Regions from separate parts of the Homo sapiens genome. Here region 2 is reported to be linked to region 1. The links are microRNA targets in miRTarBase. Many come from high-throughput screens and were not tested one by one. Region 1 holds a microRNA gene; the other region holds the end of a gene's coding sequence.

Region 1 (3,529 bases):
TGGAAACAAGCGTTGCTAAGGGAACAGCTCTAAATTCAGAGGAAAGAAATTAGAAGTGGGGAGTGGAAGTTGGTGGGCTCAAGGGCAGGTCATTTTTTCAAAATATATTTCTTTGAGACTACAGCAGCCTCTTTTATTGCTTGCATCTTCTCCCAATTCAGATAGAGCCCAGAATTAAAGAATTTTGAAAACTAGGGCCACAATCAGTTCAAATTCATCTTCATTGGATCTGTAAGGAAAAAGCCAATGAAAATGGATTTACCCTGTTCACACCTCACAATCCTACTCTGTCTCTGAACTCTGCTTCTTTGCCAACCAGTTTCATTTATCACGGGCCAGGCTGTGCGCGAGGCACTTGGAAGAATAATGAGTGAGAGTCCCTGCTCTCATAGTGAGCTTCTAGCAGGGCAGTGGTTTGGGTGGTGGCTTTAGGGCCAGGGTTGCTCATGTAAGCTAGATCAGTCAGTCCTGCAAGCTGACATCCAGAGAGATGCTGTGGTTCTCTCCAAACTCTCTTTGTGGTGCATTTTAGCTTGTCTATTACTTCTCAAAGTTTATTTGCCAGGTCCCTAAGAAAGGCCTGTTTTTCCTAGAAATACCTAGGGTGCTAAGCTCTCCTATTAACCAAGGGGTTACCTTAGTTAGCATTGTTCTCTAATGGTACCCTCAGGTCCTTGTCTCTAAAACAATTCAAGGTTGAAGGACTAACCCTCCTCTCAACAGTGGCAAAGAGGCACGGGGCTATTTTTTTTTTTTTTTTGTAAAAGAAATTAAAGACCACACATCCATCTCTGTTTCTTGATAGATTAAAGGATGGGGAAAGGAGGTCTCAGTTTTCTACAGCTGGGAATTTCAGAGCCAGCACCTCACTGCGGGGTAGACTGAAGAGGGTCATAAAGAGCCTCTGGGGGAGGAACACCTCTCCCTTACATCTTCCACAAAAGAACTTCTTGGTTTTTCTCAGACCCATGGCAGAGATGTGCCCTGTCTCAGGCTGACAGCTGGAAGGGGCTGGGACTCAGAGCTAGGTATTGCCAGTCTTCTCCATGACTCCCCCCACTCCTCCTGCTCCTGAGCGTCTCCATCACCAGGCAAGCCCCCACCCCCATTCTGGATAGAGAGAATAAACCCAAGGATGGAAGGGTGGGCTAAAGAGGAAGTGCTCACAATTAAAAAGAGAAAGAATTAAAAGCAGCACCAATAGGGAAGGGTAATTATCCTTCAGTTGCTGCAGAAATACAATTAGGGCCATGCTCTCTGAGCCGCCAGGATATTGTGGCTTTTGCTAATTAAGGAGCGGATGTGTCCTGCCAGCGCAATTAGAGGCTGGCCCAGGCAGCAGGGGCTTTGCCTCTCCTCCACCAGTGCCACACTGCAAGGGAAATTAACCAGGGAGCCCAGCGCTGTGCCTGCAGGGAGGGGATGACTGGGCCAGGATTCCACCAGCCTCCTGTCCACAACCATTTCCCCTTTTCCTCTTCCTGCTCTGCTTACCCCAGCACCACCACTCTGACTTCATTCTGAAGCTTCCAGGGCTCAGTAACCACAGGAAGAATTTTCACCATGGGCCATGCCCATAGGCTTCCAGAAGGGGGAGGCACCAGTAGAGAGGGGTCACCATTTCCAAGCTCTAGTTTCTCTTCTGCATGGTGGTTCAATGCTTTATGATTAGTAAAGGAAAGAGAGAAATGAGCCACTTGCCTGCTTCTCTTTAAAAATAATTCCCCTGTTTGTAAAGGAAATATGCTCAAATTGGGTGCAGTGGCTCACGTCTATAATCCCAGCACTTTGAGAGGCTGAGGCAGGAGGATCACTTGAGCCCAGGAGTTCAAGACCAGCCTGGGCAATATACTGAGACCTTGTCTTTACTAAAAAAAAAAAAAAAAAAAAAAAAATTAGCTGTAGTCTCAGCTACTAGGGAGGCTGAGGTGGAAGAATCACTTGAACACTCGAGTCTGGAAGGTTGAAGCTGGAGTGAGCTGTGATTGCACCACTGCACTACAGCCTGGGTGACAGAGCAAGACCCTGTCTCACCAAAACAAAACAAAACAACTGTGTCCATTATAGAAAGTAGAACACTCCAGAAAAAAGGGAAAAGTAAGAAAAAATAATTTCTCCAGGGAATTCTGAGGTGAGGAGAGGTGTTCAAAGATGAACTTAGTAATAGGAGCGGAGACAACGCCTCGCCTGAAGGAGCATCCAGACCGCTGACCTGGTGGCGAGGGGAGGGGGGTGGTCCTCGAACGCCTTGCAGAACTGGCCTGGATACAGAGTGGACCGGCTGGCCCCATCTGGAAGACTAGTGATTTTGTTGTTGTCTTACTGCGCTCAACAACAAATCCCAGTCTACCTAATGGTGCCAGCCATCGCAGCGGGGTGCAGGAAATGGGGGCAGCCCCCCTTTTTGGCTATCCTTCCACGTGTTCTTTTTTGTATCTTTTGTGTTTCCTAGAAAACATCTCAGGTCACCACCCTAAACACCCATCGGCAGACTCTTCCAGAAACATGGACAAACTATGGTGTGAGCAGGGAAGTGGGGCAGGGTCTCTGTTTTCAGGGAGCAGTGGACTGCTTCCATACCACTACCTGAAGGGCAGGGGGAGAAAAACCCTCCTTAATTACTAATTCCCCCAACAATCACTTTGGGGCACCTATAATGGAGGCACCTTGTGACTCCACATCCTGGGGCTCAGGGCCTCATTGTCTGTGGCCCGACAGCCACAGTGTATGCGGGCACCGAGAGGTATGCACTGGAGACCGAGGTTCCCGGATGTTCAGTGTACCTGGCAGCAGGGGGGACACACCTGACCTCGGAGCTTGTCTGGTGCCTGCTCCACAGCTGAGGGAGTGGACTTGTGTGTATGGAATTTCTTGGTCCCAGTACCTGCCTCTGTGCTGCTACATCCAGAGGTGTGGCCAAGGGAAAAAAGCCCAGTGCTTGGGGACCATCCCCCACTGTGGCAGGAATACAATTAGAATTAGTGATCAGAAAAAGCATTTCCCAGCCTTTTATTTATTTATTTATTTATTTATTTATTTATTTATTTATTTATTTTTGAGACAGAGTCTCACTCTGTCCCAGGCTGGAGTGCAGTGGTACAGTCCTGACTCACTGCAACCTCCACCTCCTGGGTTCAAGTGATTCTTGTGCCTCAGCCTCCCGACTAGCTGGGATTACAGGTGAATGCCACCAACTCAGCTAATTTTTTGTATTTTTGGTAGAGAGAGGGGTTTGCTATGTTGGTCAGGCTGGTCTCGAACTCGTGACGTCAGGGGATCTGCCCACCTCGGTCTCCCAAAGTGCTGGGAGTATAGGCATCAGCCACCTTGCCTGGCCTCCCAGCCTTTCTGCCTGGGATCCCTCTGCCTGGGGGGTACCTTGCCCTAAGGTGAGCACCAAGTTACAGTGATGACACTTTCAGTGGAGATTAATTTTCAAGCAACAAATCCAAATGCCCTCCCTATTCCTAAGTATATTCCCACCCTCCTCCATCCATACAGCAGAGGAGACTAAAGCATATTACAAACT
Region 2 (3,000 bases), not on the chromosome of region 1:
AGAATCACTTGAACCCGGGAGGCGGAGGTTGCAGTGAACCAAGATCGCGCCATTGCACTCCAGCCTGGGAAACGAGCGAAACTCCGTCTCAAAAAAAAAAAAAAAAAAAGAAAACAACTATACTGATTTGTCATATCTCAGACATAATGGATATTTTTCTAGCAGACCTGTTTCTTCAAAGTCTACTCAATATTAAAGAATTTCTTAGGTTCCGTGAAAGAGCCAGTGCTGTAGTTTGAAAACTGATTACTTTGAAAGAAAATAACATGGGCATTGGATTCAAAGCCTTAAGCTATTTTCAGCCTGCTTATAAAATGAGATGAGAATTTTAAAAATAAAATTATGTTTGACTTTTTTTTTTTAGGCAGCCTTTTCATTAACCAAACTTCTTGAAGCCACATCTGCAGTATCAGCTCAAGTGGAAGAACTTGCCTTCAAATGTACAGAAAATGCACGTTTCCTTAAAACGTGGCGGGACCTCTTGAAAGAAGGCTATGATTCTTTGAAACCTGATGACTGATTTGGCATACTTCGTTGTTTAATAATGACTGCAATAATTCATACTTCTTATGTCATATTTTGTACATGTACCACACATATAGGATGACCTCTGTCCAGCAGTTCTGTATATACTCAGAATGAAATTTTTCTTGGTTTTCTTGGTTTTTGTGAAAGCAGAATACCGATGCTATTTTTGTTGCGGACCAGTACTTGTTTGTCCTTAAATACTTTATGCCTCTGAACTTTCATAGAATCCTTTATGAAAGTTAACTTCATCAATAGACGGTTAATATTAATAGAGCCACAGTGCTACCAGTAGCAAACTAGGTAGACCATTATTTGTTTTGCAACAAGATGCTAAGCATGGCAGACTTTGAAGTTGCGTTTCATCTTAAGGACCAAGGGAGGTAACTTTAAGGTTGCCAGTGGTGGATCCAGCTCCGTTAGGCTAAGTTGTCTACAGCTAATGATTGTGTCTTTATTCTATATCCCCAGCACCTAAAACAGGGTCACACAACATTCACTAAATGTTTGTTGAATAAAAGAGTTAACAAACATAATTGAAAGCTTTTTTTCTTCCTATATTTAGCATGAAGACTGTCATTGTTTCTCTAGGAAATGTATGAATCTGAACTTTTTTGACTTGAAGAAAAACATTCTTTTTTTACAGAGATTTGGACTTTGATGATAGGTTTTAAAAATATATGATAAATATTTTTTGTACTTGTTTGATTTTTTTTTTAAAGACTTTACTTCAGAAAGGGAAAGACTGTTTAGAAAGAATGCATATTTTTTCCCTATTTATTTCTGTGGTTACTGCTTTTGCAGTTTAACAGTGTTTGTATTTGATATTTGTATATGTTTGATTGCTATCTTTAAAGTGCCTTATCAGATTTATGGCTCTGTGCTATTACTTTTTGAGCTTTGCAAGTTGTGTACATAATAATTCTAAAGAAGTTACTTTGTTTGCAATGCATCAAATTTAAATGATGTGATTTTTTTTGTATTATTTGATCTTAGTGACAGTGTTCTATTTTGCATCCTGTATCTTATGTTGCTTTTGGTGTTTTGTGTTGTGTGTCAACGATTAAGCCAACTAATTCTCTACCATATATAACTTCTGGACATTTTTGATACAACATCTTAATTCTTTGTAGATATGGAGATAGGTACAGAACTATATTCTAATGCCCCACAATGGGGCTATGAGAGGGGACAGATGGATGGGCAAAGAATAGTTTTGTTTAACATATTAGGTCATAGTTCTTGATTAGTTTTTTTAGTTAAAGATAAACACATAGGGTGTGATTTCTATACCAAAGATATGCTTATTTCAGTATTAGAAAAATATTCTTCTTACATCTCCTGAAAATTGCAATTTTTAAAATGTGTAAAAATAAATTATTATTAAAAGCACATTTTATTTCCATTTGTTTGGATTCATTACCTTAAAACTTTATTGACATATTTCAAAGATATAGGAAAGGTAAATGATTTCAAGAAAATCCGTGTATTTCTACCATGCAGATGTAATAAATGTTAGCATTTGGCTATATTTTCTTCAGACACACATATGCATGTAATTGCAAATGTTAGATACATTTGAAGTTTGCTTTGTTACCTGTTTGATCCTGTCCCGTTCCTCCCTCCCCAGAGTCCCCAGAGGTAACCACTAGAGGGGGCATAATATAGCATGTGTTTTTATATTTTTAATACAAATATATTTTTTAAAAGCGCTACAAAATATTGTTTTATATATGTGGTAGCCAGCTTCCAGATGGCCCCAGTGATCCCTGGCCTCCTGGTGTTCATGCCCCAGTATAGCCTTCTCCTGCATTTTACAGTGCTGACTTTTGTAACTACCAGGATATTGAGCAAATGCAGTGTGTGATTTCTGAGGCCATATCTTTTACTCTTTTTTTTTTTTTTAAGAGACAAGATCTCACTCTATTGCTCAGGCTGGAGTGTGGTGGCAGGATCATAGCTCACTGTAACCTTAAACTTGGACTCAAACAATCCTCCCATCTCGCCTCCTCCTATAAAGCACTGGGATTACAGGCATTTTTGCTCATTTTTCTATGTTGTTTTTTTTACTTGTCAGTTTTTAGATATTACATATTTTGAATACTAATGATCTGTTATGTATGTTCCAATTATCTTTTTTAGTCTGGTTTGTCTTCATATTTTGGTTATGAAATCTTGAATTTTTAAAAACGTAATTTTACCAATCTTTCATAATGATTTGCTTTTTCTGGTTTTTGTATAGGAAATGTCATAAAAATAGTCCTATTCAGCCTTCCAAAAGTTACAAAATTTTTGTTTTTAACATTTAGATGTTTAGTCCAACTGAAATTTGTTTTCTTTTATGGCATGATTTTGGAATCTTGTTTTAATTATTTTTACATATTTATAGCTGTTCCTCCAAGTATCAATTTTTCAAGTGCAACATCTGTCATGCAGTTACTATGTAAGGGCCAGATTCTGACCTTTCTGTTCTTT

The links. The annotated mature microRNA hsa-miR-7-2-3p reads CAACAAAUCCCAGUCUACCUAA and lies in region 1 at 2,333-2,354, shown strand. An mRNA with a match to its seed (bases 2 to 7 or 8) in the 3' UTR can be bound and repressed. Matches are read on the target gene's strand: a 7mer-m8 pairs with bases 2 to 8, a 7mer-A1 pairs with bases 2 to 7 and ends in A, and an 8mer does both.
Region 2: miRTarBase lists C4orf46 as a target of hsa-miR-7-2-3p. Seed matches in the 3' UTR shown: 7mer-m8 at 839-845, 7mer-m8 at 1,930-1,936, 7mer-A1 at 2,115-2,121 and 7mer-m8 at 2,853-2,859.

Annotation. Positions count from the first base shown.
Region 1 is chr15:88,609,564-88,613,092 of GRCh38, forward strand. It overlaps MIR7-2 (microRNA 7-2), which reads left to right and starts at 2,262; the gene lies at 2,262-2,371. It overlaps MIR3529 (microRNA 3529), which reads right to left and starts at 2,361; the gene lies at 2,284-2,361. It also overlaps a transcript of AEN not described here. RefSeq lists an enhancer at 3,471-3,529.
Region 2 is chr4:158,667,133-158,670,132 of GRCh38, reverse strand. It overlaps C4orf46 (chromosome 4 open reading frame 46), which reads left to right. Exons shown (of 2, transcript NM_001008393.4): 2 at 365-3,000. The coding sequence ends at 520. Among named protein-coding and RNA genes, the nearest start is that of C4orf46, 3.3 kb to the left of the region's middle.